Homo sapiens: one gene and its partners. The protein of the gene in region 1 interacts with the protein of each later gene in a biochemical or structural test. Each region holds a gene or a part of one and is shown in the gene's direction. Other genes may lie near its edges.

Region 1 (3,500 bases):
CACACACACATACACACACACACACACAAAATTGTTAGCTGGCCATGTTATTGTAACTCCTACCACACATATTTTTACATTATAATACATTAATAATTTTAATATTTATTGAAGTATTTGTAGATACTATAAAGCCAGCCCTGGGAACCACTGGTAGTATCTATAAAGCTTTTCAGCTCTTCAAAATAAAATGTCTGAGAGGTAGATATTTTCCTATTTTCTAATTACAGTTGACCTTTCTCTCTGAATGCCAAAGGAGATAATCTACACATTACTAGTTATATATTTCTTGAAATGGATGAATTTGATATATACCAAGGAAACGTTTTAAAATACCAAAACTTTACATGGATGAGCCAAGCAGGCACTAATCTCTAGCTATGCTCCTGTGCAGATGTCAGCCCACCAAGAAGGGCTCGTGTGACAGATGCTACTGAGACCACCATCACCATTAGCTGGAGAACCAAGACTGAGACGATCACTGGCTTCCAAGTTGATGCCGTTCCAGCCAATGGCCAGACTCCAATCCAGAGAACCATCAAGCCAGATGTCAGAAGCTACACCATCACAGGTCAGGGAACTCATTGCACTAACCACATTTGTTAACAAATACCCACAATGTAAACGGGCTTATTAACTGTTCTACGACTGACACTGATAAAATTTATTTTCAGTGTTATCATCATAACCCAGTTTTAGAACGTTATTTTCATGCTATGATCAGAAATAGTTTTGTCCTTTGAATGCCTGATTTTGTGTAATATTTGTCATGGAAATTGCGTAAGTGTCAATCAACAAGTTTGATCTTCCATCATTGTGCCCTTTCTTATTTAAAAAATTGTAACATAAGGTTTAAAACTAAAAGAAATAAAAAACAGTGATGTATAGATCTTAGCATTAAAAAGCATAGTTAATATAAAAGTAAACAATACCACTTAATAAAGGCCAAAATTGTAACCGAAGAATATTCAATATCTGAGGTCTTTTTTAGCTTTTTAAAATTGTGATTCCAAGGCTCAACTATTGACCATCTGATTACGGTAAAGAGAAAACCTCAATAAGTGGCTGACCCCCATTCTGCAAGAGGGCCTCTTCCAACATAGCATTTTTGCATTCCAGAATTTACTTTACCAGTGTCCTTGTCTGTATCAGTGATTCACTTTCGAGATATGTTTCTTGTTAACAGTTAACATCCATAGCATGCTCTACTTTACTGTTCAAATGTGGACCACTTTGGTAGTCTATATAAATATGGGATGATAGAAGAACCCAGAAAAATTGCAGGCTAGCTTGAGAATTCTCCTAGTAAAAAGCAAGAACTGTTAAAAATCATCTCTTCTCAAATCCCAGGTTTACAACCAGGCACTGACTACAAGATCTACCTGTACACCTTGAATGACAATGCTCGGAGCTCCCCTGTGGTCATCGACGCCTCCACTGGTAACTATACCTTCTACTGAGGAAATGCCATTGACTTGTATGCAATCAGTTTCATGAACTCAAAAAACAAATGTGAGGCGTATATTTTTGTATTATAGATTCCAGAGAATCTTGTTTCCGGTTTACAGTATTCTCAGATTCTTTTAAGTGTGTTTAGAACGGCTCGGGAGAAAAGTGTGGGAGTAATTTTCTTGGTTATTTGCCTTCTTAGAGACTTAATTTTGTTTTCTTTCAGCCATTGATGCACCATCCAACCTGCGTTTCCTGGCCACCACACCCAATTCCTTGCTGGTATCATGGCAGCCGCCACGTGCCAGGATTACCGGCTACATCATCAAGTATGAGAAGCCTGGGTCTCCTCCCAGAGAAGTGGTCCCTCGGCCCCGCCCTGGTGTCACAGAGGCTACTATTACTGGTATTGCTGCTTCCATGCTGTCATTTTCCTTCTTACTACCTAGGACACATGAAGTCCTTAGCAAACTCCCACAGCGTCTTTGATACTGTGTCATGAGAATGCGAAACTCTGTTCCTGATAACCTCAAAAAGCATTCTCTGTGTAGGAGTGGTAGAGCCTAATACATCCCAAAAGGCATGAGTGAAGGAAAATGCAATTTCAAGACTGTACTAATGGCATGACTAGACTCATGTTTTCCTTTCGCTGCAAGTTTGCCAGATACCTGTCAATTCAGTCCTGGAGAAAGATATTTTTCAAAGCATACTAGCTGATTGTGATTCTGTCATTACACTCAGCTCTCTATAGATATGGCAATCTTGCAGGACTTGCCAGTGCACCACCTGCCATTGACCTTGTTGACCACTATCACAGGATAGGTCTTGAGGCAGAGCAGTCCCAACCACCCACATTGGAAGAATGCCTGGAATGGGGAATAAGAGTTGTCTACCTTGGTGGGAAAGACTATAAGCCTCTAGTATTATTTTTGCCCAAGAGATGAAATATTTAAACTATCTGTATTAGTCTGTTTTCATACTGCTATAAAGAGGTTTAATTGACTCACAGTTCCGCATGGCTGGGGAGGCCTCAGAAAATGTACAATCATGGTGGAAGGAAAAGCAGGCATGTCTTACATGGCAGCAGGAGAGAGAAGCACACAGGAGGAACTTCCAGATACTTACAAAACTATCAGATCTTGTGAGAACTCACTATCATGAGAACAGCCTGGGGGAACCACCCCATGATCCAATCACCTCCTCTCCTCAATACATGGGGATTACAATTCCAGATGAGATTTGGATGCAGACACAGAGCCAAACCATATCAGTCTGTATAGAGTATCACCTGGACTTTAAAATTCCCACAGAACATACAGACATTAGAAGGAGACACTGGCTTTTTAGAATTGGGGGGAACAGGAAAATAGAAGCAGACATGAGAGGAATTGAACTAGACACTTCCCACAGAGGCTGCACAAACACTGGCCAATCTCTCCTACCCTTCACTTGCCTTTAGTTTCACTTTTCATTGATCTGCCACTGAGGACTGCTTGGTTATTAGGCCTAAGTAGATTCATGTATATAATCTGCAGGACTCTCTTTCAAATTTATATTCCAGTGGTGGTATATGATGCTGATAGATTTTCTTAAATTCAAAAAGGCAAATAAGACCACGTTAAAAGAATACCCTGGAAAGGCCAGGCGCGGTGGCTCACGCCTGTAATCCCAGCACTTTGGGAGGCCGAGGCAGGCAGATCACAAGGTCAGGAGATCGAGACCATCCTGGCTAACACGGTGAAACCCCATCTCTACTAAAAATACAAAAACAAAATTAGCCAGGCGTGGTGATGGGTGCCTGTAGTCCCAGCTACTCGGGTGGCTGAGGCAGGAGAATGGCTGAACCTGGGAAGCGGAGCTTGCAGTGAGCCGAGATAGCACCACTGCACTCCAGCCTGGGTGACAGAGCCAGACTCCATCTCAAAAAAAAAAAAAAAAAAAAAAAAAAGAATACCCTGGAAAAGTTAGCCAAAAAATGTCTATTCAGGCGTCAGATATGATAGTAAGATAATTAGTTTGCGATGCGGACTTTATATGCAGGATATTTGGGT
Region 2 (3,500 bases), on another chromosome or scaffold:
AGCTGGGTGTAAGAAGATCCGTTACAACGGTAGCTGATATTTACTGAGCACTTACTCTGTGCCAGGCATTGTTCTGAGTTTTTAAGATATATTTAATTTAATCATTCCTCATAACAAGTTTCTTTTAAAGTCAGTGCTATTACTATCTTCATTTTAAAGATGGAGAAACAGGAAACAGACATTCAGAAAGGTTAAGTAATTTTCCAAAGATCATGTATAAAAGTTAAGTGATAAGTCAGGATTCAAACCCAGGGAGTCTGGCTGTAACATCCACAGGAGCGCAGACACACCAACAAGTCACACTGCCTTCCTCTAGGAGAGAGAAGGGAGAGTGGTGGGGATTCTGGTAAACTAGAAAACATGAGTTCCAACTAAAAGGAGCAGCTCCTCCTCAGCTCTAGCTAACTGCTGCTCTGCAGGAATATAAGAATCTCTCTCTTTCTGTATTTCTCTCTTTCTTTCTTTTGAGATAGTCTCTCCCTCTGTCATCCAGGCTGGAGAGCAGTGGCACGATCATGGCTCACTATGACCTTGACCTCCCAGGCTCAAACGATCCTCCCACCTCAGCATCCTGAGTAGCTGGGACTACAGGCATATGCCACAATGCCTGGCTAATTAAAAAAGACAATTTTGTAGAGGCAGAGCCTCACTATGTTGCCCAGGCTGGTCTTGAACTTCTGGACTCAAGCTGTCCTCCTGCCTCGGCCTCCCAAGTGCTGGCATTATAGGCATGAGCCACTGGGCCTGGCCTGGATTTTCTTTTTAAAGAGACTAATATGAAATTTTAGGGGGAGAATCTCCTGATTATTCAATATTGCCAATAAAGTCAATTTTTTATTTCTTATTCATTTATTTATTTATTTATTTATTTTGAGATGGAGTTTTGCTCTGTTACCCAGGCTGGAGTGTAATGGTGTGATCTCGGTTCACTGCAACCTCTACCTCCCAGGTTCAAGTGATTCTGTGCTTCAGCCTCCCAAGTAGCTGGGATTACAGGTGCTCGCCACCATGCTAGGCTAATTTTTGTAGTTTTAGTAGAGATGGGGTTTCACCATGTTGGCCAGGCTGGTCTCAAACTCCTGACCTCAGGTGCTCTGCCCACCTTGGCCTCCCAAAGTGCTGGGATTACAGGTGTGAGCCACCACACTCGGCTTTTTATTTTTAATTTTTTAAAAAACTTTTATTTTTGCTTTAGGGGTACATGTGTGGGTTTGTTCCGTAGATAAACTGTGAGTCATGGGGGTCTGGTGTACCTATTATTTCATCACCCAGGTAATAAGCATAGTGACTCATAGGTAGTTTTTCGATCCCCACCTCCTCCCCGTCTCCACCCTCAAGTAGGTCCCAGTGTCTGGTGTTCTCTTCTTTGTGTTTAATTTTTAAAATAAACACTTGGGTGAACCCCCACACAAAGGTGTGGCTGGGTTCTGTCTAGGGGTTACCAGGTCTAGACTTCTGATTTGAGCCACTCAGTGCAGATTATTGCTGTCCTAATGATTGTCTCCTTAAAAAAATTAATTTTTGAAAACTGTCCTATTTCCTTCAAGGACCTTAGTTACTTTGTCAAGAACACCTTTTTCATAGCCAGTTCAAGTGACTCCTGCTTCATTCACAACCGCCCTGCTCTGTGCTTCTTCCTCACAGAGTGTCCCAAGGGCCCTGACATCCTGGTGGTCCTGCTCTCAGTGATGGGGGCCATTCTGCTCATTGGCCTTGCCGCCCTGCTCATCTGGAAACTCCTCATCACCATCCACGACCGAAAAGAATTCGCTAAATTTGAGGAAGAACGCGCCAGAGCAAAATGGGACACAGTAAGAGACGGGGCTGGGCGTTTTCTAAAGTCATTGGTCTGAGACTCTTAAGTGGAAGCAGCAGATGCTTTGGGTGGTCATGTTCAGCCAGTACCATCGTCTTTCCATTATCCTCTGTTCTGGAAACTGGGAGAGATGGTCTCACTATCCCCTTGTCCTTCAGCTTCCTTCAGCCTCTTAGAAATAGTGGCAGGATGTCATTCCATCTCATTCTCTTCTTTCTCCTCAAATAAATGGTTACTTCCAGGCTGGGCCTGGTGGCGCGTGCCTGTAATCCCAGCACTTTGAGAGGCCAAGGTGGGCAGATCACTTGAGCTCAAGAGTTCGAGACCAGCCTGGGCAACATGGTGAAACCCCGTCTCTATTAATAATATAAAAATTAGCCGGGTGTGGTGGTGCATGCCTGTAATCCCAGCTATTCGGGAGGCTGAAGCAGGAGGATTGCTTGAACCCAGTAGGTAGAGGTTGTAGTGAGCTGAGATTGCACCCTGCTCTGGGTGACAGAGCAGGACTCGGTCTCAAAAATAATAATAATAATAATAATAATAATAAAATAAAATAAAAGGTTACTTCCAAATCAGACTCTACTCTTTTATCCTGATTTATTCCAATTAAATAAGCATTTACTGAGAACTTTCTATATACTTAATCTTACTCTATTCTCTTTTGGCTCTTCTTTCACATTTCAACTTTTTTCCTCGACCCTCCAAATGGCTATTTGACTCCCCAAATGTCCAGAGTTAGGCTGCAAGTTTGTTCCCATTTGATGTTGACCCCAGAGCTTTATACTCAAGGGTCCCAAGAAACTGAGATGTTTCTGTTAGAACAGTGTGGAACATCCTGTACCTATGAGGCCCACAGGAATGTGTTTCTTTCTCTTTTTTTTTGGAGACAGAGTCTTGCTCTGTCACCCAGGCTTGAGTGTAGCGATCTTGGCTCACTGCAACCTTGGCCTCTCAGGTTCAAGTGATTCTCCTGCCTCAGCCTCCCAAGTAACTGGATTACAGGCGCCAGCCACTGTGCCCAGCTATTTTTTGTATTTTTAGTAGCGACGGGGTTTCACCATGTTGGCCAGGCTGGTCTCGAACTCCTGACCTCGTGATCACCCGCCTCGGCCTCCCAAAGTGCTAGGATTCCAGGCGTGAGCCACTGCGCCTGGCTAAGAATGTGTTTCTTGAAGCTACCATTATAGGATTTGTTACTTTCTGTTGGAAAATAGTTTGGGAAACCTAGTGAGGGTCTTACTTTTTCCTGATAACATGACAGTTTGTGGATAGTGCTTTCTCTTTCTCTCCCCTCCTCTCCCATTCCCTCCCCTCCCCTCCCCTCTCCTCCCCTCCCCTTCCTTTTACGCTTCCTCCCCTCCCCTTCCCTTCCTCCCCTCCTCTCCTTTTCTTTCCCTTCCCTTCCCTCCTTCCTTCTTTTTTTGAGACAGGGTCTCGCTCTGTCACCCATGCTGGAGTGCAGTGGTGCCATCATGGCTCAATGCAGCCTCCATCTCCTGGGCTCAAGTGATCCTCCCACCTCACCCTCCCAAGTAGCCAGGACTACAGGCACACATCACCGAGCCAGCTAATTTTTGTATTTTTTTCCCTTGTAGAGACAGGGTCTCACTCTGTTACCCAGGCTGGTCTAGAACTCCTGGGCTCAAGTGATCTTCCTACCTTGGCCCCTAAAAGTGCTGGGATT
Region 3 (3,500 bases), on another chromosome or scaffold:
TGTATGTACACACACATGCACACACACACGTTTTTACTGAGGCCAGGACTTCCTTATAGAAGACAATTCTGAACTAACAGGGATTAAATTTGTCTCAAACAATCGTAGTAGCATTATTGCCTGACTGATTTAGGGCAGCCCTGTGGAAGCATGTAAACGAAACCATCTTAATAATTTCATAGATGAATTTCTGCCTATGTGGTATAGCCTCTTGGGTCTCCTTCCCAGTGCCAGATTCCCCCATCTCAACCTCATTTTGACATCCTATATTAAGAAAAAACAAAGCAGGTACTAATCAGCAAGAACAGAATCCTATTCTCTTGACAGAATTCCCATGATCTATAACCTGCTGGATAAATAGTTCAAATCCTATATCTCTGTTCCTATTCCTAGACTTTCTGGCACCTATTACCCTTCAAGTCCATGTGTCTTCCACTAGGCTGCCATGCTCTCCGCAGGAGAGGGCAGCTGCCTAGATTTGTATGTTACAGAGGTGGTCGTGTGCCTTCTCTACCTCTCTCCTGTGTTCCCATGTAACCTACCTCTCTCCTGTGTTCCCATGTAACCTAACCACACAGGCCATAATCAGCTCCACCCTAAGAAACAGAACATTGTTAGACCTGTCCCTTGAAGTTGTACTTAGAGAGAATGGCCTGAAAACACAAGGGAGATTAAAGGTCTTTTCCTTTTCAGGGAAAGTATAGTTCTATAAGTAGATATCTGGTTAAAAGACACAGAAGAAGGAAAAAAGACACTCATCTGTAGGAACTCAGTTTAGCCAACATGACTTCCACTTGGAAGCATTTTTCCTCTCCTCTTCAAGCCCAACTCTAGGGAATACCCTGTGCAAAAATATCAGTGTAGGCACATCTCTTTGCGGAATTGAGTTGCTTTGCTTTCGCAGTTTCCTCTCTCCAGTACCCCCAAGCTCCTGTCTGGCTTCTTATACTGTTCAACCCAGGATCCTATGTTCTAGAACGGCCTTCTCACCATCTTTCCTCAGCTCTTAATTCGAAAGTCCCACTTCTAGTTCATGCTCAGAGAAAAAGCAAGTAGACCTAATCTTTATTAGAACGTGCATTTCCAGACAATAGTACTCTATTTGGCTTACTTTGCTCCCCTACATGGTGGACTTTCAGATAATATAAGGAAGAGAAAAAAGTCTAGATGTTGGAGAGGGAGTCAGTTTTAGGTAGGGAAGATCCAGTCAGTCCTACAGGTTATTATCTGCTCTTCAGCATTCCTTATAGCTCTCTGGCAACAAGTGACAGGTCGGACCATATGGAGTTACTATTTTTTTTACTTTTGGCTTAGAAAATGGCTATTTTATATGATTCAGCCTAACACTTGGGTTTTCTTTGCTAACCTTAGGGGTTACAGTTGAACCAGCCAACTCAGGAGGAAATCCAGAACCTGGATTCTTATAGTGGAAAACAAATTCACGGTTAAGATTTGAATGTGAATTTTAAAATAAATCATAGTATTTTAAAAAACAATTTTTCCTTATTAGGTATGTAACTTTGGAAAAGTTACTTAACCAGTTTATAACAGTACCTATTTTATAGGGCTGTTGTGAGGATTTAATGAGATAATTTATGGAAAGCACATGGCACTGTGCCAAACTCATAATAAGTACTCATTAAGTGTTGGTCACAGTTCTCACCAGCCTTGTTCTCTGTCCTCAGGAGATGATGACCACAATTGGAAAATTGCCCATGTGGTGCTCAAAGAGGAACAGAAGTTTCGCTACCTTTTCCAGGGCACAAAAGGCGACCCTCAGAACTCAACTGGGGGAATTTACCTAGATGACATCACTCTGACAGAAACCCCCTGCCCCACAGGGGTCTGGACAGTCCGGAATTTCTCCCAAGTCCTTGAGAACACCAGCAAAGGGGACAAGCTTCAGAGCCCTCGATTCTACAATTCGGAGGGATATGGTTTTGGGGTAACTTTATACCCAAATAGCAGAGAAAGCTCTGGTTACTTGAGACTTGCTTTTCATGTGTGCAGTGGGGAGAACGATGCTATCCTGGAGTGGCCGGTAGAAAACAGACAGGTGATAATTACCATCCTTGACCAGGAGCCTGATGTCCGGAACAGGATGTCCTCAAGCATGGTGTTCACTACCTCGAAGTCGCACACATCTCCAGGTGGGTGGTGTCAGCGCAAATAAGAACTGCCCCTTGAACCAGAGAGGCCCACAGATGTGATTCTGTGGTGCAAGAAAGAGTAACGTTCTCCTCACATTGTCTGTTTGGGAATACCAATAACATAGTCTTGTTGGAGTTTCAAGTCAAGATTTTCAATGCCATCACATCCTCCTTCCCTTTCCTAAATTCACTCATCAAACATCTATTGAGGGCTTACCATGTGCCAAAGTCGGTGCTAGGTACTTAGAATACAAGTGAATCAGGTGATCCCTGCCTCACTGAGCTCGTTGTGATTGAGGAAATAGATACTGCTAATCATTTATCAAATACTTGGAACTTGCTGGGCTCTGTGCAGAGCTAATGTACTTACTCCTAAAATAGTACTCAATGTTACTATGTTCATGAAGTAAACTTACATCAGTAAAGAAATGGGCAAACTATTTTTTTTTTTTTTTTGAGATGGAGTCTCCCTCTGTCGCCCAGGCTGCAATGTAATGGCGCATTCTCGGCTCACTGCAACCTCCACCTCCCAGGTTCAAACAATTCTTCTGTCTCAGACTCCCGAGTAGAGATGGGGTTTCACCGTGTTGCCCAGGCTGGTCTTGAACTCCTGAGCTCAGGCAATCCACCCGCTTTGGCCTCCCAAAGTGCTAGGATTACAGGCGTGAGCCACCACGCCTGGCACTAATTTTTTTTTTTTTCAAAAGAGAAGACTTAAGCCTTAGAAGAAAGAAGCCGTAGCTGTCCCTCTCTTTTCATTAAGAAAGTCGCTCAGTAGCAGACAACTGATCACTCAGAGCTGTGATTCTCTGCCTCTCCCATCTTTCAATTCTGAATTGCAATTCTCCTGGAAATAGTAAATAGCCTAATTTTTTTCCAACACTTTTTTTATTTTTATATTTATTTATTTATTTATTTATTTATTTATTTATTTATTTATTTATTTCTGATTCACAAAGCCCTGTATCCTCATTAAAGACAAACTGGAAAGTGAAGTCTAAAGAGGTAATGTGATTTTATGTTACCTACAACTTTGCAGCGATAAATGACACTGTCATCTGGGACAGGCCGTCCAGGGTGGGAACCTATCATACGGACTGTAATTGTTTTAGAAGCATCGACTTGGGCTGGAGTGGTTTCATTTCCCACCAAATGCTGAAAAGGAGGAGTTTCCTGAAAAATGATGACCTCATCATATTTGTGGACTTTGAAGGTACTTTTGTTGGTCTTCCTGAGTAAATAATCCTATGCTCTTGGCACTCTACTGATTTTATCCTGATTTTTAAAGCACACACGGAGGGTGGGGATGAGGTTAAAACAATGTGTTGTAGGAGAATCACATTTTATTCA
Region 4 (3,044 bases), on another chromosome or scaffold:
AGTTGTGTTCCCGTGACAGGGCCTATATGTGCATTATGTGTGTGTGTGTGTGTGTGTGTGTGTGTGTGTGTGTGTGTGATTTCTTGCCTCTCTTGTTGAATGCCTGAAGCTCCCCTCTCTGGCCTGGACTGGGCCATTGTCTGCCTGCAGCTCCCCGGGGAAGGGGCTGTGGAGGCAGGACCCCCATGTTGTGGTTTTGTGCCTGGAGAATTGAGGGCAGGCGTGGCTCGCAGACAGGCAAAGTCCAGTCCGAAGAGGGGAACCCAGCTGAGGTCTGGTTCGCTTTTGAGCTGCCTGTGCCTGATAGCCACGGCCTGCTGGCCTGTGCTCCTCCTGGATCATCTTGTGTAGCCTCGGTGATGGCCCAGGATCCCTGGCCCTGGTTTCCGAGGTCAGGCCTCTCCGAGCCCAAGGAGAGCCTCGGACCTGGGGGAGCCATGAGGGGACCCTGGGTATGGGTCTGCTGGCCCTGCTGCCTGGGGCCGGCGGGGAGGTGGGGCCCTCATCAGGCCAGCAGCTGGGATTATCATCTGGACGCTCAAGTCCACAGCAACCTTGGGCTAGGATACAGCCACGAACCCCCCATTCCTAGGCCATGGCTTTAAATTTTTTTTTAATATTAATAGAGACAGGGTCTTGGTGTATTGCCCAGGCTGGAGTGCAGTGGTGTGATACCAGCTCACTGCAGCCTCAAACTCCTGGGCTCAAGCGATCCTCCTACCTCAGCCTCCCAAGTAGGCTGGGACTACAGGTGCCACCATGGCTTGCTAATTTTTAAATTGTTTTTAGAGGCAGGGTCTTACTATGTTGCCCAGGCTGGTCTTGAACCCCTGGAGTTAAGTGATCCTCCCGCCTTGGCCTTCCAAAGTGCTGGGATTACAGGCGTGAGCCACCATGCTCAGCCTGGCTTTTAAAATGTATTTAAAAACAACGTGATCATTTGAAAACATTTCCCAGCTGCACATCCACACACAAGCAAACACTTTCCCTGGCCACCTGCACCCCAGAACTCCCAAACTTCCACACCTTAGCAGTGTGCATCCTTCAGCCCCCCCAGGCACACGTGAACCTTTGGGTTTATTTTAAACAAAAATAGGATGAGTCTGCTAAATACCATGCTCCAACACCAGGCGCGGCGGCTCTCACTTGAAGTTCCAGCACTTTGGGAGGCTGAGGCAGGAGGATCACTTGAGTCCAGGAGTTCAACATCAACCTCGGCAACATAGCGAGATCTCATCTCTTCCACACAAAAAAAATATTTAAAATTAGCTGGGCATGGTGGCCTGTGCTTACAGGTGGGAGGCTGAGGTGGAAGGATCACTTGAGCCCAAGAGCTTGAGGCTGCAGAGGCTATGATTGGCCTAGGTGACAGGGTGAGACCCTACTCAGAAAAAACTAAAACACACACACACAAAACTGCACTGCAGCTTGTAGGTTTTTCACCTGGTACTGCTACACTCCCCACCACAAGGTAGTGTTTCTGGGAGGAGGTCAGGGGTCAGGCTGCTCTCTCCTCCCTCTCAGCCTGTCCCCGGCTCCCAGCACGTCGTGATGTCCGAAGCTCCATGCAGGCATTCATGGCCGGGCTCTGTTCTCTCTGGCAGGTGGCCAAGGTGGAATACGTCAGGAAGAAGCCAAAATTAAAAGAAGTCCAGGTGAGGTTAGAGGAGCATTTGGAGTGCGCCTGCGCGACCACAAGCCTGAATCCGGATTATCGGGAAGAGGACACGGGTGAGTGGCTGCCTTCGTCGGCATCGGTGTTGGAGAACAGGTCTTCAGAGCCTTGCTTTTGGGGTGTTAGGTGGCCCCCTTGAGCGCAACGCTTACTGCTGTGAGCATCTGGGCTGCTGTTGAAGGATTCGTTGCCCTGCTCCCGGGCCAGATGCCTGCGGGGGAGACGGATCCCACACCTGCAGGTGTCCGGTGGGGAGGGTGGCCCAAGCTGCGGCACTGGCAGGAGAGGAGATTCAGGTCTCACTGAGAGGGGCTGGGAGTGCATAAGACACCCAATTCATTAGTGGGCTGCGGGGCTGAGCTGAGAAGAATCTGCAGAAGGGCCTCCTGCCAGGGTGGGCGGGAGGAGCAGGTTCGAGGACTGCAGTTGCCCTGGCTGGCTGGGGTCTCTCCTTCACCCCGCCACGCGGACTCCACCCAGGAGCAGAATGGCTTCTGTGCCCTGCTATGGCTGGGCCCTGGGAGCATGAGGGGACTCAGAAGTTTCTCGGTGCCAGGGTGCTGGCCTTCTCTTCTGGAAAGATAAACAAATGCCGTAGGTATTTGTTGCTTCAGTTCTTCACCCCGACGGCCGTCCCTCGGCCCACTCACCGCCCTGCCCTTTTGTTAACAGGAAGGCCTAGGGAGTCAGGTAAAAAACGGAAAAGAAAAAGGTTAAAACCCACCTAAAGCAGCCAACCAGGTAGGACTGTCTGCCGGACACACTGAGTCCTGCAGGGCGGGGAGGTGCAACTGACTGATCACACCAGCAAATCACGCTTCCTGTCTCGCCGGGTGCGGCGGGGATGTGGCCCTGATTGGCCTTGATGGTGTCTGCTGGGCTTGGGTCTCCTTGCTCCCCGTCCGCTCCTGCCTCGCAGAACGCCCTGGCCCGTGGCTCACTCCCGCTTGGGAGCCTGCCTCCAGCTTTGTCCTTCTCTTTGTCGTTGATTGGGGATGCAGGAGCATTGCACATGAATGGAACAGGTTGGGCGACCTGAGCAGCGGTGGGGCAGCTCTGAGCGCCTGGCCACTCTGGGATCACCCACCCCATTTGACAGATGAAAAAACTGAGGCTTAACTGAGATTACAGATAAGGACTGTTGGAGGCTGAATATATCTGGAAATCCTTTATAAACGTGCAGGGCTGTTGGCTACTGTGTTGGAAATTGCATTTGGCTGCTAGTAACACCAGACAGCACAGGGATTGAGATAAGATCGAGCTTCATGACTTTCATCTAAGGGTGGGATTGCAGAGCAGGGAGGGTAGTCTTGAGGTATCATCAGTGTCCGCCTTCTGTCTGGCTAGTGGCATCCATCTGCAGTTGCCT

Evidence for each region. Proteins that work in one complex are often made in the same cells at the same time.
Region 2: the proteins of FN1 (region 1) and ITGB3 form a complex in vitro, tested with the Homo sapiens proteins (one study listed by BioGRID).
Region 3: of the proteins of FN1 (region 1) and MEP1A, one has a biochemical effect on the other in vitro, tested with the Homo sapiens proteins (one study listed by BioGRID).
Region 4: the proteins of FN1 (region 1) and PDGFA form a complex in vitro, tested with the Homo sapiens proteins (one study listed by IntAct).

Annotation. Positions count from the first base shown.
Region 1 is NC_000002.12:215,373,569-215,377,068, reverse strand, and holds part of FN1 (fibronectin isoform 1 precursor), read left to right. Parts: intron 1-394; coding exon 395-571; intron 572-1,350; coding exon 1,351-1,440; intron 1,441-1,675; coding exon 1,676-1,855; intron 1,856-3,500. UniProt on the Homo sapiens protein: Fibronectins bind cell surfaces and various compounds including collagen, fibrin, heparin, DNA, and actin. Fibronectins are involved in cell adhesion, cell motility, opsonization, wound healing, and maintenance of cell shape.
Region 2 is NC_000017.11:47,305,827-47,309,326, forward strand, and holds part of ITGB3 (integrin beta-3 precursor), read left to right. Parts: intron 1-1,644; coding exon 1,645-1,811; intron 1,812-3,500. UniProt on the Homo sapiens protein: Integrin alpha-V/beta-3 (ITGAV:ITGB3) is a receptor for cytotactin, fibronectin, laminin, matrix metalloproteinase-2, osteopontin, osteomodulin, prothrombin, thrombospondin, vitronectin and von Willebrand factor.
Region 3 is NC_000006.12:46,831,389-46,834,888, forward strand, and holds part of MEP1A (meprin A subunit alpha precursor), read left to right. Parts: intron 1-1,685; coding exon 1,686-2,150; intron 2,151-3,189; coding exon 3,190-3,363; intron 3,364-3,500.
Region 4 is NC_000007.14:499,803-502,846, reverse strand, and holds part of PDGFA (platelet-derived growth factor subunit A isoform 2 preproprotein), read left to right. Parts: intron 1-1,604; coding exon 1,605-1,731; intron 1,732-2,347; coding exon of another isoform or gene 2,348-2,403; exon of another isoform or gene 2,404-2,416; intron 2,417-3,044.